Homo sapiens: one gene and its partners. The protein of the gene in region 1 purifies or fractionates together with the protein of each later gene. This does not show direct contact. Each region holds a gene or a part of one and is shown in the gene's direction. Other genes may lie near its edges.

Region 1 (4,278 bases):
TTTGAAGCATAGTGCAGATTACCTCACAAAAATGCTAAACTAATTTATACCCTGACTAATAGTGAATGGGAGGCTGTTCTCAGCTCACCTTTGTCCATTTTAGTACTATTAATCTTTTTAATTTTTCCCTATTTGACAGATGAAAATGGCATCATATTTTAGCGATTTATGTTTCCTTAATTATCAGTAAGGCTGAGTAGCTTTCTTTATGCTTATTGGTCATCTGGATTATTTGTGAACTGTTGATTTTCTTGTTTATTTTTCTTTTGGGTTGTGTGTACTTTTTTTGTTATTGTTAAATTGATTCATAGAGGCTTTAAAAAAATCTTTGTGTTGCATATGTCTTTTTTTAGTTTTTTATTTGACATTAGTCTTGGGTGTTTGTTTATTTGTTTATTTTGCCTGCATTTTTAAGGGCCAGGTAAAAATACAAGAAATTAGGATTTTTTTTTTAAAGAAGGGAATTTGCTGGGCTCGATGGCTCACACCTGTAATCTCAGCACTTTGGGAGGCTGAGGTGGGCAGATCACAAGGTCAGGATTTCGAGACAGCCTGGCCAACATGGTGAAACCCCGTCTCTCCTAAAAAAATACAAAAATTAGCTGGGCATGGTGGCACGCACCTGTAAAAGGCAGGAGAATTGCTTGAACTTGGGAGGCAGAGGTTGCGTTGAGCTGAGATTGAGCCACTGCACTCCAGCTTGGGCGAGACAGCAAGACTCTGTCTCAAAAGGATTTTTGTGATACTCTTGAAATAAATAGACACTCTAGAATGTGAGCCTTTTGTTGGAAATGTTAGTAATACAAACTTCATTTGAGACTATATGTTCAGCAACTATCACAGATGTAGTGAGCACCCAGTAACCTTCCTCTCCCTCACTCCAGTTATATTTGGAATTGAAATGAGATGTAATGGAGCTGCTTAAATATTCTAGACGACACCTTCTCTTTAGTTATTCTCCTATATATGAACGGAGTTGTATTCTAAAAGCTAGTTTGTGAGTTAGCCATCTAATTTCACTATAGAAATAATGTACATAGGTTCTTATCTTTGCTCTCAAAGTTGTAATAATTTGTGGAGGCTACTTTTTTTTTAAGCAAATTCAAAATGTTACATAATTTTACCCCTCTATACTTCAGTGTGCATCCTCAAAAGACAGGGAAATTTTCTTATATAACTGTATTGCTATTATCATAGATGACAGAATTATCAATAATTTGTTGGTGTCATCTAGTACTTTGTCCATGTTCAGATTTCTTTCTCACAGAACTATCTTTTTCCACTTGGTTTATTTGAATCAAGATCCAAACAAGGTCTGTGTATTTCATTTGGTTGTTACATCTCTTAAATCTCTTCTTCCTCTGTCTTTCTTCCCCCACTTTTTTTTTTTTGCTTCATGCTGTTGACTTGTTATGGAAACCTGGTCAGTTATCCTGTAGAGTACTGTATTTCTCACTCCATATTTGTTTGCTTTCTTGTGGTGTTAATTTGTTCCTCTATCCTTTGGATTTCCTATAAAATGGAAGTTAGCTCTGTAGGCTTAATTGTTCAGATTCAGCTTTTTTGGGAGTTGGGAATGCTTTGCAGATGGTGCTGTGTATGTTATATTGCCTCACATCAGGAGGTTCATAATATGTGCATTTCACCTACTTTTAGTGATCTGTTGGTGGTCATTGACTAAACCTACAATTTCATTAGGCGTTGCAAAGTCGTGATTCTTTTTTAAGTTGTCATTTCTTCTACATTTGTTAGCTAGAATTTGAAGTCTAGTTCTGTTACTTGGGAACCTGATAATCAAAATAAGCTTGTTGTGGGAAAGTATTGTCAGAGCAACAATATTTTTGATGCTAGGAATGCATCTTAGTGCAATAGTCTTTTTTTTTTTTTTAAAAAAAAAAGAAAGGATGTGGGCCTTGCTCTGTTGCCCAGGCTGGAGTGCAGTAGTGTAATCATAACTTACTGCAGCCTCGAACTCCTAGACTCAAGTGATTCTCTCACCTCAGCCTCCTGAGTAGCTAGGACTACTGGTGTATGCCATCACGCCCAGCTAATTAAAAATATTTTTTTTTTTTTTAGAGATGGGTCTGTCTGTGTTTCCCAGGTTGATCTTGAACTCCTGGGCTCAAGTGATCCTCCTGTCAGTCTCCCAAAGTGTTGGAATTACAGATGTGAGCCATGGTGCCTGGCTGTGATTGTCTTTTTAATGTTTCAACTTGGTTTGGCTGTAGCCCCCAGATATTTAGTCAAACATGAATGTAGGTGTTGCTGTGAAAGTATTTTGAAGCTATGATTAAAATCCATAATCAATTAAGTAAGGGAGATTATTCTAGATCATCTGGGTGGGCCTGATTCAATCAGTTGAAAGGCTTTAGAAGCAGAGCTGAGGTTTTCCTTCCAAAAAAGAAGAAATTCCACTTGTAGACAGCAGTTTCAGCTAGTAGCCAAGAGTTCCAGCATGAGTTCCTCCCTTCATAGCCTGCCCTATGTAAACCAGTTTCTTGCCATAACTCTCTTAATATATATCTCCTACTGGTTCTGCTTCTCTAGTTGAAACCTGACTGGTGCAAAGGGTAACTCCTCTGATGCTTCTGTTCTCCAGCTAAATGGGATGGGAAGCGGTAGTAAGGGTCAGAGAACTTGCATTGTTTAGGGTAGCCATATAATTTTTTGTTCAAACTGGGACTTCTGAGAAAGAAAGGAGCTGAGTTGATGGCAAGCTGAAACAACAGGCGTAAGGTGGAACTGTCTTGGGCAAATTGAGAGTTATAGTCACCTTGTGTGTCAGCCACTGGGGATACAACATGAATATGACACAGCCCCTCAAGGAGCATGTAGTCAAAGGAGAAGTCAAGTAAATAAAAATACATTAAGAGATAGTGTTTTAAGTGACATGACAGCTTATAGTTGTTGTATTTGTCCAGACAGAGAGCATAGAAGGAGAGCATGCAGAGAAGTCTTCACTGGCCGAACTGGAACCTATTTTTTACCTCCAAAGATAAGCAGCGTTTGAAAAAAGTGGAGTTGGAAGGGCATTTCAGGCTTAGAGAATCACACAGGTGAAAGTTGAGAGTGAGAGAGCACGGCACATTTGGAAAACTGCCATCATGGCCACAGCTCTAGGATTGGAAGAGGGGAGCCATGAAAGATGAGGTTAGGCAGACAAGCAAGGGCCACATCATAATGGGCCTTGCATCTACGCTGAGGGGTTTGGAACTGTCTTCCATGTGGGAGGGAACTGTTGCAGAATTTTAAACAGAGGAGTACCATGACCAGACTGTTTAAAGCATATTTTGTAATATTCTAAAACTGGGAGTGGAGAAAAATTGATAATAGGGACACTACTCAAAGGCTGTTGAAATAATCTAGTCAGTGAGAATAGAGGAAAGCTTGTGGTGTAAGGAGATTAAGGGAGCCATATTGACAGGACTGATTGGATTTGGGGTGCCTCCCAGGTTTCTGCCTGGATTGGCCACCCTGAAGTGGAGAATTAAAGGAAAGAGGTAGCTGATGACTTCAGTTCTGTATGTGATGCTATGCACTCTTGTTTTCTCCTATCGGTACTTTGGCTTCTGTATAACCAGTGAGAGGAAGGACTGAGTGGCAGTAACATCTGTTAGGGTTACTGGGCAGCATCCCCGCAACCCAGGTACTCAGTCTCAGCCACACCTTACTGAGTGGTGAAGAGAAGCAAGTTTTCTCATGCCCTCTCCGTCTGTCTCTACCTCTGCAGCCAGTGTTTTAGAAGGAGTATGTGGAAGGGCAAGGAGTACCTATAGAACCCCGGAGGAGGGTGAGGAGCAGAGCTGGGTGAGTTCTTTTCTTCTTTGGAAATTTTAACATGTACAACTTTAGGCATGTTCTTTAACTTCTTTTGGCTCAGTTTATTCATCTGTGAGGTTTAGATGAACAAGTGCATGTGGAATGCTTAGAGTAGTGCCTGGCACATAATCAGTGCTATTCAAGAGTTTGCTGCTGATATCGTAGAGTCACTGCTTGATCCTGGGGTCAGAGTAGCTAAGGGGACAGAGGGAAATTTCTGCGCTTTTTCTGTGGAAGGAATAAATACTCAGCAGCTGCCTATAATAAAGTGTTAGTAGAAATCAATTGAATTAGGAGGAATTTCTCATAATAGAAGAGCCTTTATTTTTTAGTCCCCCTTGTCTTTATTTTTTTAGTTAGGGAAAAGGCAAGTGGCTCAGTTCAGATTTAATGAGGGCAGTTATTCTTACTTACTACCATGCTTTCAGTGTTCACCCTAACCTGTTCTAACAATAAATA
Region 2 (3,500 bases), on another chromosome or scaffold:
TCCCAATATACCAAAATGAGATTGATAAGATAATGGCAAAAGAGAGAAAATGGGACAAGTGGATTCTAAATGTTATCTCAGGAAGAGAGAGCATACTGACAATGTTATTTTAAAAGTTACCCATCTTTGCTGGGTATGATGGCACGTGCCTATAGACCCAGCTACCCAGGAGGATGGATTGAGCCCAGGAGTTTGAGACTGTAACATATTATGATAGTATCTGTGAATAGCCAGTGCACTCTAGCCTGGGCAGCATAGTGAGATCCTGTTTCTTAAAAAAAAAAAAAAAAGAAACGAACAAAAACAAAAAGTGTTTTTAAATTATCCATCTTTAAAATAAAATACCAAGAAGGCAAATCTTCAAACATACCTTTTCTTGTTGTTGTTATGTGTGTGTTTTGGTTTTTGTTTATGTGTTTGTTATTGAGACGGCATCTCACTCTGTTGCCCAGGCTGGAGTGTAGTGGTGCATCTCGGCTCACTGCAAGTTCCGCCTCCCAGGTTCAGGCGATTCTCCTGCCTTAGCCTCCTAAACAGCTGTGATCACAGGCGCACGCCACCATGCCCAGCTAATTTTTGTATTTTTAGTAGAGGTGGGGTTTCACCATGTTAGCCAGGCTGGTCTTGAACTCCTGGCCTCAAGTGATCCTCCTGCCCCAGCCTCCCAAAGTGCTGGGATTACAGGCATGAGCCACCATGCCTGGCCGTTATTGTTGTTAATAAAAGCTTCCTTTCAAAAACATTCTTGAGTTGGGTGGATGTGCTTGAAAAAAAATAGGACACTGTATTTCTTGTTCTTTTCCTTACTGCTTGAGGTGGTCAGAGTCCAGATAGATGGCACCTAACCAGTTAATGCCTTGTTTTGTTTTGTTTTGCCAAAGGTCGAGTGGTGGGCATACTTCAGAAGAACTGGCGGGATTATGTGGTGACATTTCCGTCCAAAGAAGAGGTCCAATCTCAGGGCAAAAATGCTCAGAAAATCCTGGTTACACCTTGGGATTACAGAATTCCCAAAATTCGAATTAGCACTCAGCAAGCAGAAACCCTCCAGGTAGTTGGCATTCTACCTCTACTATGGGATCTCTACGCTTTCTCCTTCTGTCTTTACCAGCTTTTTAGCAGTACCAGAAAGCATTGTTAATTCCTTTGCATATAAAGAAATAAATTATTGATGGCATCTGGCATTCCAAGATACTGGGATGTGTTTTTTGGGGTTTTTTTGTTGTTGTTCTTTTGTTTTTCCAAGACAGAGTCTCACTCTGTCACCCAGGCTGGAGTGTAGTGGCGTGATCTCAGCTCATTGCAACCTCCACCTCCCGGGTTCAAGCAGTTCCCCTGCCTCAGCCTCCCGAGTAGCTGGGATTACAGGCTCCCGCCACCACGCCCGGCTAATTTTTGTATTTTTAGTAGAGATGGGGTTTCACTGTGTTGGCCAGGCTGGTCTCAAACTCCTGACCTCATGATCCACCACCTCCACCTCCCAAAGTGTTGGAATTACAGGTGTGAGCTACCATGCCCAGCCGTGTTTTTATGTTTTTTAATTCTTTTTTTGTAGAGATGGGGTCTCACTTTGTTGCACACGCTGGTCTTGAACTCCTGACCTCAAGCAGTCCTCCTGCCTTGGCTCCCCAAAGTGCTGGAATCACAGGCATGAGCCACTGTGCCCAGCCCCAAGATTCTGTTTTTTAAAAATTCTAAATATATGAAAACCATCCATTAAGTAGTCTGTGGTTAATAAATTCAGGCCAGAGAGAAATTGTCCTAGAAAGAGCTGTGTAGGACAACCAGAGAGAACATACATTATCCAGCTGTCCAACATAGAAACTTTCTATAGATACACTTTGCCAACACTAACAAGCTTTCCTCCAGCAAGCAATATAGAAATACGATCACTCTGCCCTGTAGGGATGATGTAGTGGTACTTCACAGAATTGATTATCCATAAAGGAATATAGCACTGGAGAGAAGACATAAACAAGAAGGTTAGAAATTAACCTTTACTTGTGTCAAAAAGTATGGGCATTGCCCAATTTAATTCCCCCTGATATTTTACAGTTTGTAAATGAGACACTAAAGCAGGATGTCCCCAGCCAGTAACCTAGCCATTGTGCTTTTACATCTTGAAGCCTTATGCAGGCTCTCCAGGCCAGTTGCACCTAATACATTTTCCATTCCCATGGTTTGCTGGAATTTTGGGGTAGTGGGGATTCAGTTTACACGACACCTTCTTCTCCACCAAAGACCATCTTAAGAGGTCTTCAAAGAGACCAGGCGCAGTGGCTCATGCCTGTAATCCCAACACTTTGGGAGGCCGAGGCAGGTGGATCACTTGAGGCTAGGAGTTCAAGACCAGCCTGGCCAACATGGTGAAACCCCATTTCTACTAAAAAAAAAAAAAAAAAAAAAATTAGGTGGGCATGGTGGTACACGCTTGTAATCCTAGCTATGTGAGAGGCTGAGGCAGGAGGATCACTTGAACCCGGGAGGCATAGGCTGCAGTGAGCCAAGATAGCACCACTGCATTCCAGCCTGGTTGATAGAGCAAGACTCCATCTCGAAAAAAATAAAATAAAATAAAATAGACTTCAAAGAAATTAGGAACTACCTCCCACACACAAAACATTAAGATTGTTGTTTTAAAACTTAATTTGGAGCATGCATAATTGAGTTTTCCCCTAGTGTTGCAAGCGTTAACTAGAATATATTACAGTTAACTAGAATATATTACGGCTCTCTTCAGCAGACTAAAATTTCCAGCCCTCTTCATTGATGTAGAGAGGTAATGCCTCCCTTCAAAGCATTGGGTCAAGCATTTCATACCATCTGGCAATTTAGTAATAGGAAGAATGAAAAACAAAAAAAAAACCCTACCATACACCACTATTTGCACCTGGCCACTCTCCTTGGAACCCAGTATTGTTTGCCTCTTGTTTGTTTGATGCCTCTAATTGACCCACTTAACTCCTGGTGCTCAGCTGTGTTTTATTTTTTCCTTTTGTGCAGGACTTCAGGGTGGTCGTGCGCATCGATTCCTGGGAGTCAACATCTGTGTATCCAAATGGACATTTTGTGCGTGTTTTAGGAAGAATCGGAGATCTGGAAGGGGAAATTGCAACCATCCTGGTGGAAAACAGTATTTCAGTTATTCCTTTCTCAGAAGCTCAGGTCAGATTTTCCAGAAGGCTTTGATCTAGTGACATTTTCTTTTTGCTTTTGTTGTTGTTTCATCATTAAGAAAGAAAAGTCTTTGTGCTGTGGAACAACCCACTGTGTGAAGGCACAGATAATGGAAAAATCTCAATCCTCTTTATTCTATATTTGGACCAAACTGAAGTCAGCTTCAAGTGTAGAATTAGTTTTCTATAGCCTCATAGCTCTCAAATTTTTATATTTTCCAACTGGGCTTAAAAATGATATGTCAGTGTCTCATAGTCAGTATACATCCATCCCCAGCAACTACAAGGACACCTAGTTACAGACCCAACTGAGCTCCACACTCT
Region 3 (4,278 bases), about 120 Mb from region 1:
CTGAGTAGCTGGGACTATAGGCGTCTGCCACCAGGCTGGCAAATTTTTGTATTTTTAGTAGAGACGGGGTTTCACCATATTGGTCAGGCTGGTCTTGAATTCCTGACCTCAGGTGATCCACCCGCCTCAGCCTCCGAAAGTGCTGGGATTACAGGCGTGAGCCACTGTGCCCGGCCAATTGCTTTCTTTTTAGTATAATATTGATCCTGACTTCTTCAGAGCCTGAAGATTGACAAGTATTCAGCCAAAGAATAGGAAATAGGCTAGATATTATAACAAGTAGATTGATCCCTTTGGATTTGTCCTTTCAGATGCATTAGCCATTTGTCTCAGATCTAATGTCTCAGGTTTGATTATGCCTCATGCTAAGATGTAGGTTCAATGAGAAATTTGAACAAGCTTTGACCAGGCCAAAAAAAAATCACTAAAATCTTTACTTAAATGTCAGTGGCTTCCATAGATAAATTATTATGGTAGAATATTAGTTACATGAAGTTCATGTTGTATATTGATATATGTTTACAAAATAGAATGCTTGATTCTTGATCAAAATTTTCTTTTTAAAAAAAATCCTGCAGTTATATTTATTGAATTCTGAGCTCTACAATTTTGGTTGCTATTGCTGGGAACTCTCTTTTACTTAACTACATCACCACTTATCAAGAGACTTTAATAATTAAGGGAATTTGTTTTTTTTTTCTCCTAGGTTTACTTTATCATCATCAAGAAATAAGAAGCATGCTAAAAACAATTTTACATGTGTAGCATGTCACCCAACGGAAGACTGCATCGCATCTGGTCACATGGATGGCAAAATTCGTCTTTGGTCAGTTTGCTCATGAAGAGCATGGCGATCATTTATGTACTATTTTACGTTAGTCCTGTAGAACAGGGCTATCTCTGGGTCCCAAGAAACAGCCTCCCTTTCCTTTTTTGTGTGCTTTTCATTTCATACTTACTGTTTTAGAATTTCTAGCCTTGGACTTATAAAGTGAGTGAAACATTTTTTGTTGCCTGTAATCATTTTATTGAAGAAAACTTTTTGTTTGCCTTTCTCCAAAAAGGAAAGACTGACAATAGTGAATATCTAGGAGGGTACCACAGATGGCATATTATTTATAGAAGTCAGTCACTCTGGTTAGAAATAGAAAATGTGCACATTAAGACCAGAAGCCTTTATATTATGATTTAGTATGTTTGGTATATATTATGTTTATTGTATTTGGCATGCCATTGTTTTCCTAACTTAAACCTATGGTCAAAATAAGAGTTTTATCTTTCTCCAATAGGAGGAATTTTTATGATGATAAGAAATATACGTACACATGTTTACATTGGCACCATGATATGGTTATGGATTTGGCTTTTTCAGTGACAGGTAAGTGCGGGTTTAATTATTAAAATGAACTTTTGAAGATATGATTCAAGTGTTTTAATTCACTGTATTTTTAGTTTGGAAGATTTAAAACTGCATGAGCCAAATGAATTCCAAACACTTGTGTGTTACCCCTGTATTTTGGGCTTTGCTCAGCACAATATGCTTTAGGTTTTGAAGCCCTTCAAAGTTCTAAAGTGTACATTTGTGATAAAAATCTCTGTTGTTTACATAAATAACCTATTTAAATTATATGACTTTTTGAAGGTATATCTGTCTACATAACTAAGTGTGTGTGGTCCATAACTGTAGCTTATCAGGTGCAAGTAACTATTCTAACACTACATCCATTATCTGATTTAATCATTGGCCGTAGGAAATGAGTGGCATTATACTCATTTTACAGATAAAGGAAGTAGGATTTGGAGTTGATAATTAACTTGCCTAACATGACATGGTGGGTAGGTGGGTTTGGACCTGGTTCTGATTTTAGAGCTCTTGTTTTTAACTGTTACATGGCCTTATTTGACATTAGCTATTTTAAATTAATCTCCATCATTGTTTCATTTAAGCTGCATGACTTCTGTCACAGCTTTGTGTAGTGTAGCTATAGCGAGTAAAAATACCTTTAAAGTAAAGTGGTCTTCAACAGAAATACAGGGAAGTACATCTTGTCTTTGTTTACTTTTAGCATCCTCACACCCATGTGGTGAGAGTTATGTCAGTTTATTTGACTGGTTCTTTAAGAAAGTTACTACATACTAGAGAAGATTGTGTGCCTAAAAAATGAGAAGCCAGGAAAAGTGATTTTTCTTTCTGCAGGTCTTCCTGGAGACTGACAGGACAAGTCTTAGATGGTACCATATGCTGTGGTATCCTTAGAGTCTTACTTGGGTGTAATGCCCGGAAGCCCCAGGAAATAGGAGACACCTTCAACCCGATTATGGTTTGGGGAGTAATGACTAGTGTATGGAGACAATGTAGGCTGCTCATTTGTATTCTCTACCCTCCTTCCCACTCCACACCCTCAAAATACTAGTGAGTGCTTGGTATCCATATGTATGTGTCTGTATATGTTCCAGGCAGGGGTTTTTTTTTTTTTAGACAAGGTCTCACTTTGTTACCCAAGCTGGAGTGCAGTGGCACCATCTTGGCTCACTGCAACCTCGACTTCCTGGGCTCAAATGGTCCTCCCACCTCAGCCCCCTAAGTAGCTGGGACTACAGGCACGCACCACCACGCCCAGCTAATTATTTGTATTTTTTGTAGAGATGGGGTTTCACCGTGTTGCCAGGCTGGTCTCAAACTCCTGACCTCAGGCGATCCCCCCAGCCTCCACCTCCCAAAGTGCTGGGATTACAGGCGTGAGCTACCGTGCCCGGCCATTATTTGAATTCTTGATATTATATTTCAAGTAGCATGAATATTTTTAAATGAGAAATAATGGTTACAGTACATAGTTGTCAGTGAAATGTCCTTACTGACTGTGTGGGTATGAGTTATTAGAAAAAGAAAAAATAGCTGCGTAAATATAAAAGAAATACAGATTTTAGTTGTTTTTGAGAACTTCATAACTTGAGGCATATATGAACTATATGCACAATGTATCATATATGTGTATATATCAGATTAAACTTCTTAATTTTGTTTGTGTACATCACAACTACATACCTTTAGTCTTCTGTTTAGCTAGATTTTATCAGCTTGCAGCTTTAGAAAATTTGATAAAAACCCCATTATAAACCAGTGATCTTTAAAACCAGTTGTTTTAGATTCATGAAAGAATGAAAAATGGTTATTTGATGGAATACTTTTGAGAAAACAGTCTGAAACAGTGTCCTATTTATCCATTTAGTCATTAAGGTAGTCTTTTGCAGGCTTTTGTTAGTTTTCAAACCATTAGATTTAATTGGCCACATTTGACTGGTGGCTACCGTGTTGACAATACAGCTGTTGCTATATTTGAGGAGAATTGATGTTTTTATAGTATTGAGTATTTTAATTTGTAATCATAATAAATACTTTTCCACTTTTTAGGTCTTTATATCCATGAGTTAGGATTTTTTTTCTGTGGTTCTCATATATATTTTTCACTAGACATTTGATGGTCTTTTGATAGTATGTTTTACTCTATATTCTAATTGACTTGCTAGTATTTAAAAATAAAATTGATTGTTATATATTTCTCTTATAATCAGCTAAATTTACTTATTCCATAAGTTTATCTATAAACTATTTTGGCTATGCCTTGGTGTAGTCATGCTGTCTGTGAACATGGAAGTGATTATTTCCTTCTTTCCAATCCTTAAGCCTTTCTGGTTTCATTTCAGTGCACTAGACATCCAGTTAACGTTGAATCAAAATGGTAATAATATTCTTAATCACAAAGGGAAAGTTTTCAATAGTTTAACTTTTAGTGTGGTGTTTGCTATAGATGTTATCCAGGTACTCTTGATGAGATTCAAAGGGTCCCATCCATTCCTGAGTTTCTGAGAGGTATTATCATGAATACGTATAGAATTCTGTCATTTGCTTTTTCTGCATCTATTCAAATAATCATGGTGTTTTCCTTTTGTTCTGTAAGTGGGGTTACATTAATTTATTTTTCAGCTGTTAAGGTAATCTCATTCTTGCAGTAAACTGCGATGACATGATACCCTTTAATATATCATTGGTATAGTATTTTGCTTAAGAATTTTCATCTGTCGTGAAATCGGCTTTTTTTTATATATATATAATATTTTTGGTATAGTATTTAAATGTTTAGAAAAATTTATCAGTGAAGCTATCTTGGCCTAAAGGATATTTGTTTGTCCAGCTTTTCTAGTTGTCAACAGAGGAGTTGGTCAGCAACAAACTAATCAGATATCACTGGAAAAAAAATTCCTGAACCAGTGATCATT
Region 4 (4,278 bases), on another chromosome or scaffold:
TGCTAATCAGATTCTTGCTTCGTTTTTAATATATCTTGGGTGCTCTTTTTTTTTTTTTTTTTTTTTTTTTCCTGAGATGGAGTCTTGCTTTGTCGCCCAGGCTGAAGTGCTGTGGCGTGATTTTGGCTCAATGTAACCTCTGCCTCCTGGGTTCAAGCAATTCTCCTGCCTCAGCCTCCCTAGTAGCTGGGACTACAGGTGCGTGCCACCATGCCCGGCTAGTTTTTGTGTTTTTAGTAGAGACGGGGTTTCACCATGTTGGCCAGGCTGGTCTTGACCTCCTGACCTCGTGATCCACCCACCTCGGCCTCCTGAAGTGGTGGGATTACAGACATGAGCAACTGCACCCGGCCTGGGTGTTCTTTCTCAATTACAAAGGTAATACAATGCTTTTTAAAAATCTCATACATTTTGTCAAGTATGAAATAGAAAATAGGTGTCTCAGCTGGGCACGATGGCTTACACCTGTAATCCCAGTACTTTGGGAGGCTGAGGCGGGTGGATCACTTGAGGTCAGGAGTTCGAAACCAGCGTGGCCAACATGGTGAAACCCCATCTCCACTAAAAATACAAAAATTAGCCAGACATGGTGGCAGGTGCCTGTAATCTCAGCTACTAGGGAGGCTGAGGCAGGAGAATCACTTGAACCTGGGAGGCGGAGGTTGCAGTGAGCCGAGATCCCACTGCGGCACTCCAGCCTGGGCGACAGAGGAGACTCCGTCTCAAAAATAAATAAATAAATAAATAAATAAATAAATAAATAAATAAATAAAATGGTGCTTCAAGGAGTACTATAGATGAGAGAGCTAAGATTGTAGAACACTCTAGAGATAGTTGTGGGAAGAGAGCTCAGTTACTCTTCGTATATTTATGTGTATGTCACTTTCTTTTTTTGTTGTCCAACTCCCAAGGTCGCATCCTGAGTCTCAGCTGGCATCCCTCTGGTACCCACATTGCAGCTGGTTCCATAGACTACATTAGTGTGTTTGATGTCAAATCAGGTGATTGTTTTTTTCAGTTCATTTGGGGTGTGGGTTTTGTCAGATTCACATTTCTGAGTTTTCAAAAGCTTGAGCCTTTGTCATGGTTTCATGACCTTTATGGCCTAACATGTCATTAATCTTCTGAGATGTCCACAATTAATTTTACTCCTTTCTTGGATTACTACCACTGCTTTTAGGGGAATCTTGGATCTTCAGTAAGATATAGTATTTTTCATTCATCGTAATAAGAATTCACAATAAAATACTCTGAACTAGTACATTCGTGTACTATAAACAGTAGAATTACCTATTTATAGATCCCAGTCCTTGGTAAAAATGGGCTTCTGTCATTGAGGAACATAAGATTTTTGTAGCATAATTGGTGAAACATGAGATCAGAAAAGCAGAGAACCATGATATTTTCTGTTCTTGGCCTGGAAAATTGGCTTCATAGAATCCTTCATTGATAGGGTTGATCTCAACTTGTTAGGTGGACATGTCTGTATTTCCGTCTGAGATGCAGAGATAAAACAGGTTGGCTGGGCGCGGTGGCTCATGCCTGTAATCCCAGCACTTTGGGAGGCCGAGGTGGGTGGATCACCTGAGGTCGGGAGTTCAAGACCAGCCTGACCAACATGGAGAAACCCTGTCTCTACTAAAAATACAAAATTAGCCGGGGTGGTGGTGCATGCCTGTATTCCCATCAACTCAGGAAGCTGAGGCAGGAGAATCGCCCCATTGCACTCCAGCCTGACAACAAGAGTGAAACTGCGTCTCAAAAAAAAAAAATCCCTTAAGCTTATTACAAAAAAGAGGGAGTCCTTCTATATCTCTCTCACTCTCCTCGAGGCAACCACTTGTGACCCTTAGCTGATTCTTTTGGTATCTATCACTGCAGATCCTAGCATGCTTTTTATGCTACATTTTGATTTTTCAGCTTTAGACCATTTTTTACTGACTTCTGCAACTTGCCCCTCTTTTTCTACCGTCTGCCACAGGCATCCACACTTCCTCCCGATCCTCCCAGTATGGTTATATTATAACTTTGTTCAAATTAGTAATTGATGTTTTCATTATTATGACTATGTATATACTACTCACATAGTAAATTTTCTTTCTTTTCCGGTATACTTATTGTTTAATAGTGTCTCTGTCTCTCTGTCTTACTGATACATTCCCACATTTTTCCAGTTGCATAAATTAGGTTCAAGTCCATCTGATTTTCTTTCTCCACTTTTATCTTTGTGAATAAGTCCCTCCCGGTGCCTTCTGACCCACTCCCATCTGGCTTAGCCACTCTGGGCCTGCTGCACAGCTGTGAGATCTGAAACTCTGATTGATTTTTCCATTGTTCTCGGGATCTCCTTTGCTTCTCTATCGGATAGGATCTCCCATTTCTGTGTTATTCACTTTCTTGGTTTACCCTTTGGTGGATCCTGAGTAAGAGTGCATGAGAAAGAATTCTAGGTTGGAAATTCTTTTCCCTTAGAATTCTGAAGCCCTGGCTCCGCTGTCTTCCAGCTCCTCGTATTATTAGCAAGTAAGCTGCCATTCTGAGAGTTATCCCTTTGTGTAGGACCTGTTTTATTTTTTTTTCCCCCAGGAGCTTTTAGGATGTTTTATCCTTACTGTTATGAAATGTAATAATTAGGTTTCTTGGTATGTGGATCAATTAATTGTTCTGGACACCTGGTAGGTTCTTCTAATCCAATACCCACGTCCTTCAGTTCTGGGGGGAAATTCTTTTACTCTTATTTTTCATTTCTTTGTCTTTTTACTATGCTTTCTGGGAGAGTTTGTCTTTTTTATCTTTGAATCCTCTATTGAGTTTTTCATTTTTGACATTTCCAGAGTTCTTTTTTTTCGTGAATCTTCTTTTTTACAGCATTCTCTTTATGTTTCATTATACAGAAACTCTTCTCTTTCTTTTTTTATTTTATTTTATTTTATTATTATTATACTTTAAGTTTTAGGGTACATGTGCACAATGTGCAGGTTAGTTACATATGTATACATGTGCCATGCTGGTGTGCTGCACCCATTAACTCGTCATTTAGCGTTAGGTATATCTCCTAATGCTATCCCTCCCCCCTCCCCTCACCCCGAAACTCTTCTCTAAGGCTATTAATAATTGTCAAGTGTTTTTCACTCTGCCTGTTTCTTCCCTGTTATTCATTTATTTGTTTCTGTTAGTCCGTTTGGCCTCTGCCTTTCATGTTAAAGGCTTTCCTCATGTCTGGTGATCATCTCATCACTGCATCATGTGGCTTACTGAGCTTGGGTTTCACTGAAGAATGATCTGGCTGGACTGCTTATTTGGGGTAGCCCTGAAGCCAGAATCTTCAGATCTTTTCTTTTGTGTCAGTTATGTTCCTCAGAAATGGTTTTTCATTCTCCTGCCTGGTGAGTATTGGCCTGGCTATCAGCATTCTAAGGGGAAAAAAAAGAATGGTGTTCTCAACATTCAGTGAGAAATGTTCACTTAATCCTGGTTTTCATATACTGCTTCTGCCTGATAGCCCTCCTCAGACAACGTCTCCAGTATTCTGCTGACGTGCATTTTGGGAGCTTCCCACCTTCTTAGTCAGGGCATGGCTATCTGAGGGGTCTACCAGCTGTTAACGGATCCCTCTTTGAAGCCCCACTTACTCCTTTTCTAGAATATCTGGGGTCCCCAATTCCTGAGTCCAAGGATTCCATAGTATAAATCAGGTGGCTTCTTGGCTTTCCTCTCTGCCGACCTGGGACTTAGTTTCAGGGCTCTGCTAAGTCAGTGCCACTACTTGTCTGCTTTCCAGTTCCCCAAATTTTGTCACTGATCTCTCCCTTTCCTGTGGGATTTTGGAAAAGAGCAGAGTGTAATGTGTGTGTGCAGTTGACCAGCTTTAAGTGAATGTCCCAAATGTCTCTTTCCATTTCACCCCACCAAAGGGGTTTCTGTTCTCATTCTCTTCCCTCCCTTCCTCCCTCCCTTGCACCTTCTATCCCTTTCCTGTTAGGCTCTCCCAACACCCCTTCTCTTCAGGTAACCATTTTGGAGTTCCGAGATCAGGTTCACCAGAACTACCATTTATAGGCTGACTGTTCAGTCAGCTCACCTACCATATCATGCTTACCGCAGGCGGGTTTGTTATGTTGTTTCGTAGAGATGAGGTCTCACTTCGTTGCCTAGGCTGGCCTTAAACTCCAGGGCTCAAGCAGTCCTTCCACTTTGGCCGCAGGCAGATTTTGAAGACAGAGAAATAAGTACCATTTGAAGGTGTGCTTTTCTGATTTTTCAGGCAGCGCTGTTCAT
Region 5 (4,278 bases), on another chromosome or scaffold:
GTAAGCTCCAGTTAGGTAATCACTGTCAACGAAAACCTTGAAGTTCCTTAATTGCATTTTACTGAAGCCTCTTTGCATGTGTCTAGCAAAAGATATAAGTCCAAGATGCTTATTTTTTTTTTGATAAATTAGAAATTGTCCTCTCCTCTACTTGCTATTTAATGCAGAAGATACTCTAAAAGGTTCATATTTATACTTAGAAGCAAGATGTTCTTGTTCCTGATTCAAATATATTGCCCTCAAAGGGATTAGGAGAGGAATTTTCATTTCCCGGAGGGATTACTGTTTAAAAACTGGTTGTAAACCTCTTTAAAAACTGCTTATCACTTCACCAGATTTTCCATTCTTTTGCCTCCTCCCTTAGAGGATGTCAGCAGTTAATTTTTTTTTTAAATTAAAAAAAGTTCAATTCTGAGACCTCCTAGTTTCAAAAAATACATTAAACAATTCCCAAGAGTGTTAAGAGTGTCTGGGTGCTTAGAAATTCTTGCTTTGATTCATGTATTCTGATTTTTTTTTTTTTTTTGAGACGGAGTTTCGCTCTTGTTGCCCAGGCTGGAGTGCAGTGGCTCGATCTCAGCTCACCGCAACCTCTGCCTCCCAGGTTCAAGCGATTCTGCTGCCTCAGCCTCCCGAGTAGCTGGGATTACAGGCGCTTGCCACCACGCCTGGCTAATTTTTTATTTTTAGTAGAGACGGGGTTTCTTCATGTTGGTCAGGCTGGTCTCGAACTCCTGACCTCAGGTGATCTGCCCGTCTTGGCCTCCCAAAGGACTGGGATTACAGGCATGAGCCACCGTGCCCGGCCTCATTATCCTGATTTCTTTTTTTTCTTTTGAGACTGGGTCTCACTCTGCTGCCTAGGCTGGAGTGGAGTGACGTGATCATAGCTCACTGTATCCTCTAACTCTTGGGCTCAAGTGATCCTCCTGCCTTAGCTTCCTGGAGTAGCTGGGACTACAGGCACATGTCACCACACCTGCCTAATTTTTTTATTTTTACTTTTTGTAGAGATGGGGCCTCCATTTGTTGCCTAGGCTGGTCTTCAACCGGCCTCAAGCAGTCCTCCCACCTTGGCCTCACAGAGTGCTGGGATTATAGGCATGAGCCACCATTCTCGCCAGTATCCTTATTTCTTAACTTTAGAAAGTTTTTCTATTTTTAATATAGGTATTTAAAAAAATCTGAATTCAGAGTGCACCTCGATGTTATGCTGTTCTGAGATTAAATATACTAAAACTGTTACCATTGTTTTCTGAATTCTTAAGATGTGACTGATAGTTAGCTAATAGGTTAACACATTGTGGTGGTTCTTGGCCTCTGAACTGATAGTCCAGATGGGGAGAGGAGACCAGAAAGCATGTGAAAATGGACTAGAACCATGGGACAGCTATATAGTCTCTCGCAGCTGTCTTTTGTGTTCTCTGCTTCCACCAAATTGGTTGATTTATTTAGAATGCTGACCTCTTGCATTGCCTAAGTCCTTGATGTTTTTGGTTTCTCCTCTGAACTCTCAAAGGTACTCACTTCATGCTCTTGGTATAGCCCACTTATGTTTAACTTTCCTTTTATTATGTGTTCCCTCTTACACATGACATGGACATTTCTTTAATATGTAGAGTAAGATATTGGATTTCATCCTAAAGTCTTCAAAATAAAACTCTTGAGCTCATCATCTCAGACTTCTTCATGTACCCACAGACCAGGGATTTTGTTTGCTTTTTAAAACATTTTTTTATTTTGTGTTTTATTATTTTTAAATTTTAATTTAATTTTATGGAGACAGGGTCTCGCTCTGTTGCCCAGGCTGGAGTGCAGTGGTGTGATCTCGGCTCACTGCAGCCTTTGCCTGGGCTCAAGCCATCCACATGCCTTGGCCTCCCAGTGTGCTGGGATTACAGGTGTGAGCCACTGTGCCTGGCCTAAATTTATTTTTTTAATTTTTTTTGAGACAGGGTCTTGCTCTGTCGCTCAGGCTGGAGTGCAGTGTCATAATCATGGGTCACAGCAGCCTTGGCCTCCCAGGCTGAAGTGAACTTCCCACCTCAGCCTCCTGAGTAGTTGGGACTACAGGCGAGTGCCACCATGCCTGGCTCATTTTGGTTTTTTTTGTAAAGATGGGGTCTTGTCATGTTGCCCATGAAGGTCTCCAACTCCTGGTCCAAGTGATCCTCCCGCCTCCGCCTAGCAAAATGTTGGGATTACAGGTGTGAGCCACCATGCCTGGCCTTATTTATTTATTTAATTATGAATGAATGAATGAATTAATGAGAGGGAGTCTTGCTCTCTTGCCCAGGCTGGAGTGTGGTGGCACAATCTTGGCCCACTGCAACCTCCGTCTCCCAGGTTCGAGCAATTCTCCTGCCTCAGCCTCCCGAGTAACTGGGATTACAGGCGCCCGCCACCATGCCCAGGTAATTTTTGTATTTTTAGTAGAGATGGGGTCTCACCATGTTGGCCAGACTGGTTTCGAACTTCTGACCTCAAGTGATCTGCCCACCTTGGCTTCCCAAAGTGTCAGGATTACAGGCATGAGCCACCATGCCTGGCCTGGCCTTTTATGTTTTAAGTTGCTTCCACTGATTCTCTTGGGCTTTGCTCCCCTCCAGAACTGGCCATGGTTTAGGATGCTGTCCACCTGCTGCTGCTTGTCCATGAAAACGAGCCATAAACCCTTTTCTTTTGAAAGACTTAATTGTTTATCACTATGGAGAAAGAGGGGATGGCAAGAAGTAGCAAATACAGGGAATTTGCAGAACTTGGTCTTGAGCCCTGGGTCCAGAAACTTCTTCTGGAAGGTGCTTGGTGTTTGTCCAAGCTCATGATAGGTTTCTGTTGGCTGTACTGCCAGATCTGTAGATGCTTTTTTAAGGCTTGGATGACTTGTTCAAAACAATGTTTTGGAGTACAAATTTGGCTGTGGGGACATCAAGACCTTGTTGGGAAACTTGGGTTTAAGGTACAATTTCTTAAACTAGGATGGTGGGAATGGGGATGTGAAGGGAGAATGAATGTGAGAGGTATTACAGGGTAAGGATGGAGATGATTCAGATTCCTTAAGTGGATTTAATAATCACACTGTAGCTTTGAACTTGAGTGACTGGGGAAATATTTGTGGTGTTTTTGGAAATAAGGGCCAGAAGGACTATTGGTTTGGGTAAGAAGATAGTAGGGGGATGTATAGGTGGACCTGCTAGTGGGGAGCTGAGATTTGGAGGGCTGAGATGTAGTGCTCTTCACTGCCGTAGGGCAGTATCCTCTTGTATGTGCCATCCTCTAGTGCCCATTGTTCATCATGTCATAGTAAGCCCAAGATGTTCATGCCTTTTTTCAGCACTGCATTAGGGCTTATATCTGCTTCTCTTTCTCTCTCTCTCTCGCTCTCGCTCCCTCCCTCTCTCTCTCTTTCTGTTTTTTTTTTTTTTTTAGACGGAGTTTCACTTGTGTTGCCCAGGTTGGAGTGCAGTGGCGCGATCTTGGCTCATTGCAACCTCTGACTCCCGGGTTCAAGCAATTCTCCTGCCTCAGCCTCCCAAGTAGCTGGGATTACAGGCATGTGCCACCATGCCTAATTTTGTATCTTTAGTAGAGATGGGGTTTCTCCATGTTGGTCAGGCTGGTGTCAAACTCCCAACATCAGGTGATCTACCTGCCTCGGCCGCCCAAAGTGCTGGGATTACAGGCATGAGCCACCGCGCCCGGCCTCTCTCTGCTTATTTCTACACAGTGTTACCAATGAGATTGGTGTTACTGCTGGGCTCCAAAGCAATCAGACAGATTAAAGTAGATTGAATATGAAAGAATTTAGAGGCCTTTTTCCAAGTGATTTGTGCTCTATTTAATTTCTGTGCATTTGCAGATATAGCCCACAGTAATTCTTAGTGAACTAGAACCTTCAGGTTATTGAATTTTACTGATTTGGGTACTGACATGCGCTTTTAAGAAGACATTAGGTTTTCTATAGTGTAGATTGTACACTAACAATATAATTCATATTTAAGAATGTCTCAAAATTTAGTATACTGTGTTCAACTAACTTAACTTTCTTTGTTTTTTTTGTTTTGTTTTGTTTTTGTTTTTTGAGACGGAGTCTTGCTATGCCACCCAGGCTGGAGTGCAGTGGCGTGATCTTGGCTTACTGCAACTTCAACACTCCTGGGTTCAAGTGATTTTCCTGCCTCAGCCTCCTGAGTAGCTGGGATTACAGGCACCCGCCACCACACCGGCTAATTTTTGTATTTTTAGTAGAGACGGGGTTTCGCCGTGTTGGCCAGGCTG
Region 6 (4,278 bases), on another chromosome or scaffold:
CCCTGGTCCTGGCTGTTGGGGATGGATGGTGACTGTTATGTGGCCTTTACAGGGCTTTAGGCACAATAAAGCTTTCCCAGGTTCAGCCTACTGAGTGCTATGGCTATGACCTGGACATTAAACTGGCCCTCATAGGTTCAGACCTGGCCATGGCAATTGACGAACCCTACCACAGGGCTCTTGGAACCCTGTGAAAGCCATTTTATTGTATGTTCTTGGCTGTTGAAGGGAGTTGTAGCCCAGCTGATGGCTTCCATTTCTTTTCTGTGGATCTTGCTTTCATCATAAGCATTGTTTAGGGGTATAGCATGGAAGAGGGAGATCAGGGCCTCAGCCTGGTTTTCAACTATGAGATTGAGCAGTCAGTATTCGGTTGCTCAGTCTGGCCATGACAGAATTGGAGCCAGCCCTCAGGACTCTTGATTTTTAGCTCTCTGCCCTTTCTGTTTACAGACCCATGGCACAGAAAGCCTTATGCCCAGACACTGCAGGATGCAGAGTTATGGAGCCATATCCTTTCAGAGGAATGCCTGGCTACTCAACAGGGTTGGAAAGTCAAACAAGGATCAACACCTACTTTTGCCTGCTGTGTGATGGGCCCGAGCCTGCAAAGCTGGACCAAATGTGGCCCCTTTCCTAAGGGCGGGGGGCAGTCACCTTCTAGTAGGGGAAGGAATTTAGTCTCACTTCTCCTTTAGGAATCTGGAGTATTAGACAAGTCAAAGCAAGTTAATGAGGGGTTAACATAACCTCAGAGGACCACTTTGAGTCTAAAGTCCTTCCAGATGTGTCAGATTGGTAGCGCCAACTTGTCAGTTTCTATTAAGAAGTAATAGGACTGGGCTTCCTGGGTGTGAGGGAAAGTAGGTCTGTGCTTAAATGTCCTTCCACTCTGTCACAAACAGGAGATTGAAACTTAGGTGCCTCCATTCTTATCTGTAACCTCTCTCAGGGTTGTTTTTGAGGATGCAGTGAGTTAATGCATGCCCCCAGAAGCAGGGGAAGGGAACTGCTTTGGGGGGACTCCTATGTGTTACACTGAAGGACTCCTTTAAATGCTTTATGACGTTTCTGTTCTCTTGTAACTCTGTAAGGTCGGGGTTATCCCTGCTTTCTAGATGAAGAAACAGGCTTAGAGCTATTTAGGTCAAGGTCACAAAACTGGCATGTGACAACAGAGATTTAAGTATAATTTGGAAGGTGGCTGTTTCCACCACACCACACCCTACTGGTAGGGTTGTTGTGATCACATGGGTAACAGCTGTGAAAGTCACCAAGAGCTTTCCTGGCATCCAGAAGCCCTTGATCTAGAGGCACATCAGTCTCCTCTGCTGAGAAGGAGGGGACACCACTCCATGCTGTTGACATCTCTTGAGTTTTAAAATGGAGCTTTTACTTCAGGGTAACTCCTATTTAAGTGTTCACACATGGATTAATTCCTTTGCTCGTGACTGCTGCAGATAAATAAAAACTGTGGTAGGGCACCAGGCCCTGAGCTAGGCCAGGCAGGTTTGGACAATTTCCTAAGCCTTTTATAAGGAAAACTGGGTTTAAAAAAAAAAGTTGCCCTGGGTACAGTGATTCATGGACTGGTTAGGTTGGTTTTTTTGGTTTGTTTTCCTCCTATCCTTTTTTTATATGGAAAAAAATTATGCATGCTTGGAAAGGAAAATTTGTAGCTTTTCATTTATCTTTTACTTATCACCTGAGCCTTTCTCCAGGAGGCAGAGAGTGAATTAAAGGCTGGAAAAGCAGTATCTGATGAGGCTCAGTTTTCTGACAGCCCACCAGCCCCTTCCTGGACCAAGTACATTTTCACTACAAAGAGGTGTGACTAATCTTTCAGAGCAAGTGATATTTTAGAAGCAGTAGTTGGACCAGATGTGGTGGCGCATGCCTGTAATCCCAGCACTTTGGGAGGCTAAGGCAGGAGGGTCACTTGAGGCCAGGAGTTTGAGACCAACTTGGGCAACATAGCAAGACCCCATCTCTACAAAAAGTAAAAAATAAAAATTAGCTGGGCATGTTGACATGTGCCTGTAGTCCTAGCTACTCAGGAGGCTGAGGTAGAAGGATTGCTTGAGCCTAGGAGTTTGAGGCTGCAGTGATCACCACTGCACTACAGCCTGGGTGACAGAGTGAGATCCTGTCTCAAAAAAAAAAAAAAAGGAAGAAGCAGCAGTAGTAAACCCTGTGACCTTGTGGCCAGCCAGTTCATCCTGTGAAGGAGGTCTCTGCTGAGTCCTTTTGTAAAGTGAAGACATCCTTTAGAATGCAGTGGACTGTGTAGCATAGCGGTTAAGAGCTCTGACTTGAGGCTTAAGTGCTACTTACTGGCTGTCTGAACTTGGGCCATTCATTTGACATCTTTTAACCTCAGTTTTCTCATTTGTAAAATGGAATGAATAACACTATCGTATAGGATTATTGAAAAGATTAAATGCATTAACTGCAGTATTCCTTGCACATTATCTGGTATATAGTAAATGCACAGTAAATAGCAGCTGCTATTATTTATTGCAAATAATTACAGCCATTTTAATTTATAGATCTGTAGAATTAGAGAATCACTTTGAGACTAATTTAATCTCCATCTTTTACAAATGAGGAAACTAATCCAGAGAGGGAAGGGGCTTGTCCTAAGTCAAGTGGCTAGTTAGTGCCAGGAGCTGGCCTGGAACCATGAGTCATGTTCCTAATGATTGTTCATACTTACACCATATTTACACCCCACAAAGAACTTCTTGTCAATAACCTTTCTGGGCTGGGTATTCACTTTCCTAGCTGGGGAGTGGGGCACATGGAGGTGGAGAGGGCTGGAGTGTTAGAGATTGAGCTAGAAAGCCTTCAGGTTCTATGGGTGAGGTTGGGAAGAGACACAGTTACATAGTTATGGGTCTTCCAGTGAAGAGGGATCACCTTCTGGAGTTCTATCCTAAAGGCTTACTCTCTTAGACTTGAAATTCTGTTGCTTTTTGAATCCATCTCCAGACTCAAGATAGGGATATTGTGTCTGGAATTGGTGGGTTCTTGGTCTCACTGATTTCAAGAATGAAGCTGCAGACCCTCGCGGTGAGTGTTACAGTTCTTAAAGGCGGCGTGTCCGGAGTTGTTCCTTCTGATGTTCAGATGTGCTCGGAGTTTCTTCCTTCTGGTGGGTTCGTGGTCTCGCTGGCTCAGGAGTGAAGCTGCAGACCTTCATGGTGAGTGTTACAGCTCTTAAGGCGGCACACCTGGAGTTGTTCATTCCTCCCGAGGTGGGTTCGTGGTCTCGCTGGCTTCAGGAGTGAAGCTGCAGACCTTCGCGGTGAGTGTTACAGCTCATAAAGGCAGTGTGGACCCAAAGAGTGAGCAGTAGCAAGATTTATTGCAAAGAGCGAAAGAACAAAGCTTCCACAGTGTGGAAGGGGACCCAAGCGGGTTGCCACTGCTGGCTCTGGCAGCTTGCTTTTATTCTCTTATCTGGCCCCACCCACATTCTGCTGATTGGTCCATTTTACAGAGAGCCGAGTGGTCTGTTAGACAGGGTGCTGATTGGTGCGTTTACAATCCCTGAGCTAGACACAAAGGTTCTCCACCTCCCCAGTAGATTAGCTAGATACAGAGTGTAGACACAAAGGTTCTCCAAGTCCCCACCAGAGTAGCTAGATACAGAGTGCTGATTGGTGTATTTACAATCTCTTAGCTAGACATAGAGGTTCTCCAAGTCCCCATCAGACTCAGGAGCCCGGCTGGCTTCAACCAGTGGATCCTGCACTGGGGCCGCAGGTGGAGCTGCCTGCCAGTCCCCTGCCATGCACCCGCATTCCTCAGCCCTTGGGTGGTCGATGGGACTGGGCGCCGTGGAGCAGGGGGCAGCGCTCCTTGGGGAGGTTGGGGCCACACAGGAGCACCCATGGGTGGGGGTGGGAGGGCGGGGAGGCTCCCGCATGGCAGGCTGCAGATCCGGAGCCCTGCCCCGTGGGAAGGCAGCTAAGGCCCAGCAAGAAATTGAGCACAGCAGCTGCTGGCCCAGGTGCTAAGCCCCTCACTGCCTGGGGCCAGCTGGCTGCTCCAGAGTATGGGGCCCGCCTAGCCCACACCCACCCGCTGAGCCCATGCCCACCCAGAACTCGCGCTGGCCCGCAAGCACTGCCCGCAGCCCTGGTTCCCACCCACGCCTCTCCCTCCACACCTCCCAGCAAGCTGAGGGAGCCGGCTCCCACCTTGGCCAGCCCAGAAAGGGGCTCCCGCAGTGCAGCGGCGGGCTGAAGGGCTCCTCAAGTGCTGCCAAAGTGG
Region 7 (4,278 bases), on another chromosome or scaffold:
CTACTGATCTTGAGCCATCTGGTGAAATACTGTTTTTCATCTTGTAGATTCACATTTATGGCCGATACTCCCAAGAACCTATAAAAACCTTTTCTCGATTTAAAGACACAGCATACTGTGCTACTTTTCGACAAGATGGTAGATTGCTTGTGGCTGGCAGTGAAGATGGTGGAGTTCAACTTTTTGATATAAGTGGGAGGGCTCCCCTCAGGCAGTTTGAAGGCCATACAAAGTAAGAGACAGTTGGTTTCTGTGTGTTCTGGTTTTATTTTGTTGTAAGCTCTTTTTTTCTCTGGACTTTGGTTAAAAAGATAGAGATCAGTTTTATGGAGATTATTTGCCTATAGGTACTATATTTCCTGATTGTTCTAAGAGTGCTTAACTTGGGTTCCGTGGTCCAGTTTCATGGGGCTTATGAATTCCCTAGAATTGTATGTGATATTTTAGGAAATACACGTTTATCTAGGGAGCTACTCTGTAGCTTTTGGTTAACTTTAGTGGGGTCTGTGGCCCAGCTGAGATTATGAATTACTGACCTGAAGACAACCTTACAGCTGGTAATGACAGCTCTATAGGCCTGTACTGTCTTAGAGGCTCTTATGTTGAAGTCAAGTAGGAAGGTGGATTTTCTTCTTGAATTTATAGTGTTTTGCCCCTTAATAAATTAAGTGGCCATCACAATTTTATATTATAACTTTGTTTTCAGGATTGCCAATGTCCGTGCTGAAATTTGTTAAAATTTAACAGAAATTTATGTAACATGATTCTATTTAGTGGTAAATCTCTTTAGAGTTTTTTAAAGAACTTTTTGAAATTTTAAAAATTAAAGTGCCTTTGCTTCCATATTCAGCAGCTAAGTGGAATTGTTTATATACTAGAAAATATAATTTTAAGGCTATCCTTTAATTTTTTTTAACTTTACAATATAGGAGTATTTACACTTCTTAATTGGTTTGGGGGCAAACACTTGTAAGTTTTCTCTTTCTTTCATGATTTCCCCCTATGAAGACTCCCTGAAACTCAGCTGCTTTTTTTTTAATCTGAGAAAAAGGAGCATTTTATGTTAGAAGGTATCAGAAAAATAATTTTCTTGCTTTTTAATATACTGACCTTCAATCTTTCAGAGCAGTTCATACAGTAGATTTTACAGCTGACAAATATCACGTGGTCTCTGGGGCTGATGATTATACAGTTAAATTATGGGATATTCCAAACTCCAAAGAAATTTTGACATTTAAAGAACACTCTGATTATGTGAGGTGTGGATGTGCTAGCAAACTTAATCCGGATCTCTTTATAACAGGTTGGTGAACTCTATTCCCTCCTGAAGCAAATAATCTCACGGGGATGTACTTTAATGTTGCTATGGGACTCTTTTGGGATGGAGGGGTTTAAATTTTTTTTATAAAGGAATATGTTTCTGATTAATTCTTCAGTTTTTAAATTAATTTTTATGTATGTATGTTTGCATTTATTTTCAGACAGGGTCTCACTCTGTTGCCCAGGCTGGAGTGCAGTGATGTGACCATAGCTCACTGCATCTGCTACCTCCTGGGCTCAAGTGATCCTCCCACATAAGCCTCCCAAGTAGCTGGGACTACAGGTGCCCACCACCACGTCCAGCTACTTTGTGTATTTTTTTGTAGAGACGGTTTTGCCATGTTGCCCAGGCTGGTCTCGAACTCCTGGGCTCAAGTGATCCACCTACCTCAATTTCCTCCCGGAGGACTGGGATTACAAGTGTGAGCCACCATGCCTGGCTTCCAATTGTTTTTTATTTTCTTATTCTTCTTTTGTTGATTGTTCATGTCTTCCAAATGTGTTTGGAAAAATCAGGCTGTCTTGAAAACATAATAGACTCTCAGAACTGTAATGTATAGTACCCTGCCTCAAGCAGCCAAGAAACAAAGAGTGCAGTTTAGCCTTTGTGGGTGCCTTTACAAAGATTTCCAGATGATTCAGTAGTGACAGTAGTCCAAAGAAAGAAATATTTTAAGATCAGAGCAAGTTAGATTCTGTATAGTATTATGTAGTGCTTCTTCAGACACGATCAGTAGTAGATGGTTTGGAGGTCCTGTGTCTTCATGAATATACATATATGTCTTTTTAAAACTCCATCTAAGCTTTTTTTCCTTTTAAAATTTATATCTGGATACACACAGTTTTTGTTGTTTTAAACAGTCAAACTAAAAATTCAAAAATTGACATTTTAGGATCATATGATCATACTGTGAAGATGTTTGATGCACGAACGAGTGAGAGTGTTCTCTCCGTTGAGCATGGGCAGCCAGTGGAGAGTGTCCTACTTTTCCCCTCTGGAGGTCTTCTGGTGTCAGCAGGTACTTCTTAAAAATAGCTTTCACCAATATTGTTGGTTTTGAATCACGTTTGTTTAAAATCAGTTGCTCTTTGTAATTTATCAGTGTGCATTTGAATTGCATATCTAAGTCTTTGTTCAAACAGTTGATAGGTAGGACTGGCAAGCAGTTATCATTTATTGTGTACCTAATGTGAGCCAGGCACTGTGCTGTTACATATGAACTCTAATGCCCTAGATGATGCTACAAGGTAGTTAGCTTTTTCCCTACTTTACAGCAATGAAATAAAAGTTTTAACTTATTTTTCAAGGCAAAGTGGTAAGTGGCAGATCTGAAATCACAGAACTCGAGAGCTCTGTGTATTTAGCCCTGTGCCATCTTATTTATTTAGCCCTGTGCCATCTTATTTAACCCCAGAAATTTAGCCCTGTGCCATCTTATTTAACCCCAGAAATTTAGCTCTTATGTATTTAGCCCTGTGCCATCTTATTTAACCCCAGAAATTTAGCTCATACTCCTTTTACTCCTACCTAAGAGATCTGCAGCAGCTTTTGAAAATCAGTTATTTGAGATCTAGTAGGCTTGTCTCTTTTTCTGTGACTCTCTTGATTGAAATGCCACTACCCAGCAAATAGCTGCTAGTACTAGAGAAAGGAGATAATGTGGCCTCAAAAGGGGCCTTGGTACATTTTTCAACAAGTTGGGACTGAGATGTTTTTCTCATTTTGCACATATTGCATTTTCATAATTACAGTGGAAGAAGTAAATTGGCTTTTTTCATTTGTAAATAAAGTAAAAATGTGTTCATATTAGAAGAATGTATAGGTAGTATGTATACTTGACAACATATATATTGCTGTGTGTACCTCCTTTTTTTTTTTTTCTTAATTCTAAAATCTGGCTAGAAATTACTCTGTTTTATATTCTTTTCCCCAGTACCTATTTGATTTAAAAATAAGTTGAGGCGGGATGTGGTTGCTCACGCCTGTAATCCTAGCACTTTGGGAGGCTGAGGCAGGCGGATAGCTTGAGTCCAGGAGTTTGAGACCAGCCTGGGCAACATAGCAAGACTCTAAGACTCCATCTTTAATTAAAAAAAGAAAAAAGTTGATAATGTCAGATGTGTCTACTTTTCTTGCTGTTATTCTGACAAATGGAAAAAATATCATGTTGAACAGGGAGAATAGAAAGCTGTGTGCTGATCTCCACTGTGTGTCACTAGCTAATTGTGACCTCGGGCAATCCCTTAAGGTCTCTAGACCTTGAAAATGAGAGGGTTGGACTAGATCAGTGATTTCAACTGTGATCCCTCTTGTGAGGTGCCACATAGGAGTGGAGAGGTGGGAACTGTGAGTTGGGTTCCAACTCCTGTTCCCCAGTCAAGATTTCAGTCTCCCCTTCCATCCCTTTTTCTGTCTTTCCATATTAGACTTTTTTGCTTGATATTTTGCTGCAGATCTACATTATTCACTTCCACTGCTATATAGAATTTCTTTTAAAAAATGATTTTATTATAATTTTCTTAAAATGGACTCTTTCAGTTATACATTTATTTTGCTGGAATTTATGTACACTTCACAAATATTATTTAATGGTCATAACAGTTCTGTGAGGTAGGAACTGTTATTACCAATGACCCAGGAAGTGGTGCATCCAGGATTTTACCAGGCAGCCTGGCCTGGACTCCCTCACTCAGCCTCCATGCTTTGTGGAGTGTCCAGAGAAGAATGCTTTTCAGATCTTTAATATGTTGAATCTGTGGGCAGAATATCCAACTAACGATGATTTCTTTTTATAGGAGGTCGTTATGTTAAAGTCTGGGACATGTTAAAAGGAGGACAATTGCTAGTATCTTTGAAAAATCATCACAAAACCGTGACATGTTTATGTCTAAGCAGCTCTGGACAGAGGTTACTCTCTGGCTCACTGGATAGGTTGGCATTTTAATTTTTTTGTATAT

What was found.
Region 2: the proteins of C1D (region 1) and DIS3L purify together in Homo sapiens (affinity purification with mass spectrometry; one large-scale study listed by BioGRID and IntAct). This does not show direct contact.
Region 3: the proteins of C1D (region 1) and WDR75 purify together in Homo sapiens (affinity purification with mass spectrometry; 2 studies listed by BioGRID and IntAct, with this or other methods). This does not show direct contact.
Region 4: the proteins of C1D (region 1) and UTP4 purify together in Homo sapiens (affinity purification with mass spectrometry; one large-scale study listed by BioGRID and IntAct). This does not show direct contact.
Region 5: the proteins of C1D (region 1) and TENT4B purify together in Homo sapiens (co-immunoprecipitation; one large-scale study listed by IntAct). This does not show direct contact.
Region 6: the proteins of C1D (region 1) and EXOSC7 purify together in Homo sapiens (affinity purification with mass spectrometry; 3 studies listed by BioGRID and IntAct, with this or other methods). This does not show direct contact.
Region 7: the proteins of C1D (region 1) and UTP15 purify together in Homo sapiens (affinity purification with mass spectrometry; 2 studies listed by BioGRID and IntAct, with this or other methods). This does not show direct contact.

The regions. Positions count from the first base shown.
Region 1 is NC_000002.12:68,052,590-68,056,867, reverse strand, and holds part of C1D (nuclear nucleic acid-binding protein C1D), read left to right. Parts: intron 1-3,730; exon of another isoform or gene 3,731-3,807; intron 3,808-4,278. UniProt on the Homo sapiens protein: Plays a role in the recruitment of the RNA exosome complex to pre-rRNA to mediate the 3'-5' end processing of the 5.8S rRNA; this function may include MPHOSPH6.
Region 2 is NC_000015.10:66,317,568-66,321,067, forward strand, and holds part of DIS3L (DIS3-like exonuclease 1), read left to right. Parts: intron 1-881; coding exon 882-1,051; intron 1,052-3,003; coding exon 3,004-3,165; intron 3,166-3,500. UniProt on the Homo sapiens protein: Catalytic component of the RNA exosome complex which has 3'->5' exoribonuclease activity and participates in a multitude of cellular RNA processing and degradation events.
Region 3 is NC_000002.12:189,458,047-189,462,324, forward strand, and holds part of WDR75 (WD repeat-containing protein 75), read left to right. Parts: intron 1-706; coding exon 707-826; intron 827-1,289; coding exon 1,290-1,378; intron 1,379-4,278. UniProt on the Homo sapiens protein: Ribosome biogenesis factor. Part of the small subunit (SSU) processome, first precursor of the small eukaryotic ribosomal subunit.
Region 4 is NC_000016.10:69,138,914-69,143,191, forward strand, and holds part of UTP4 (U3 small nucleolar RNA-associated protein 4 homolog), read left to right. Parts: intron 1-911; coding exon 912-1,001; intron 1,002-3,229; exon of another isoform or gene 3,230-3,277; coding exon of another isoform or gene 3,278-3,386; intron 3,387-4,264; coding exon 4,265-4,278. UniProt on the Homo sapiens protein: Ribosome biogenesis factor. Involved in nucleolar processing of pre-18S ribosomal RNA. Part of the small subunit (SSU) processome, first precursor of the small eukaryotic ribosomal subunit.
Region 5 is NC_000016.10:50,155,836-50,160,113, forward strand, and holds part of TENT4B (terminal nucleotidyltransferase 4B), read left to right. Parts: intron 1-4,278. UniProt on the Homo sapiens protein: Terminal nucleotidyltransferase that catalyzes preferentially the transfer of ATP and GTP on RNA 3' poly(A) tail creating a heterogeneous 3' poly(A) tail leading to mRNAs stabilization by protecting mRNAs from active deadenylation.
Region 6 is NC_000003.12:44,982,314-44,986,591, forward strand, and holds part of EXOSC7 (exosome complex component RRP42), read left to right. Parts: intron 1-4,278. UniProt on the Homo sapiens protein: Non-catalytic component of the RNA exosome complex which has 3'->5' exoribonuclease activity and participates in a multitude of cellular RNA processing and degradation events.
Region 7 is NC_000005.10:73,568,373-73,572,650, forward strand, and holds part of UTP15 (U3 small nucleolar RNA-associated protein 15 homolog), read left to right. Parts: intron 1-47; coding exon 48-232; intron 233-1,124; coding exon 1,125-1,303; intron 1,304-2,213; coding exon 2,214-2,339; intron 2,340-4,116; coding exon 4,117-4,252; intron 4,253-4,278. UniProt on the Homo sapiens protein: Ribosome biogenesis factor. Involved in nucleolar processing of pre-18S ribosomal RNA. Required for optimal pre-ribosomal RNA transcription by RNA polymerase I.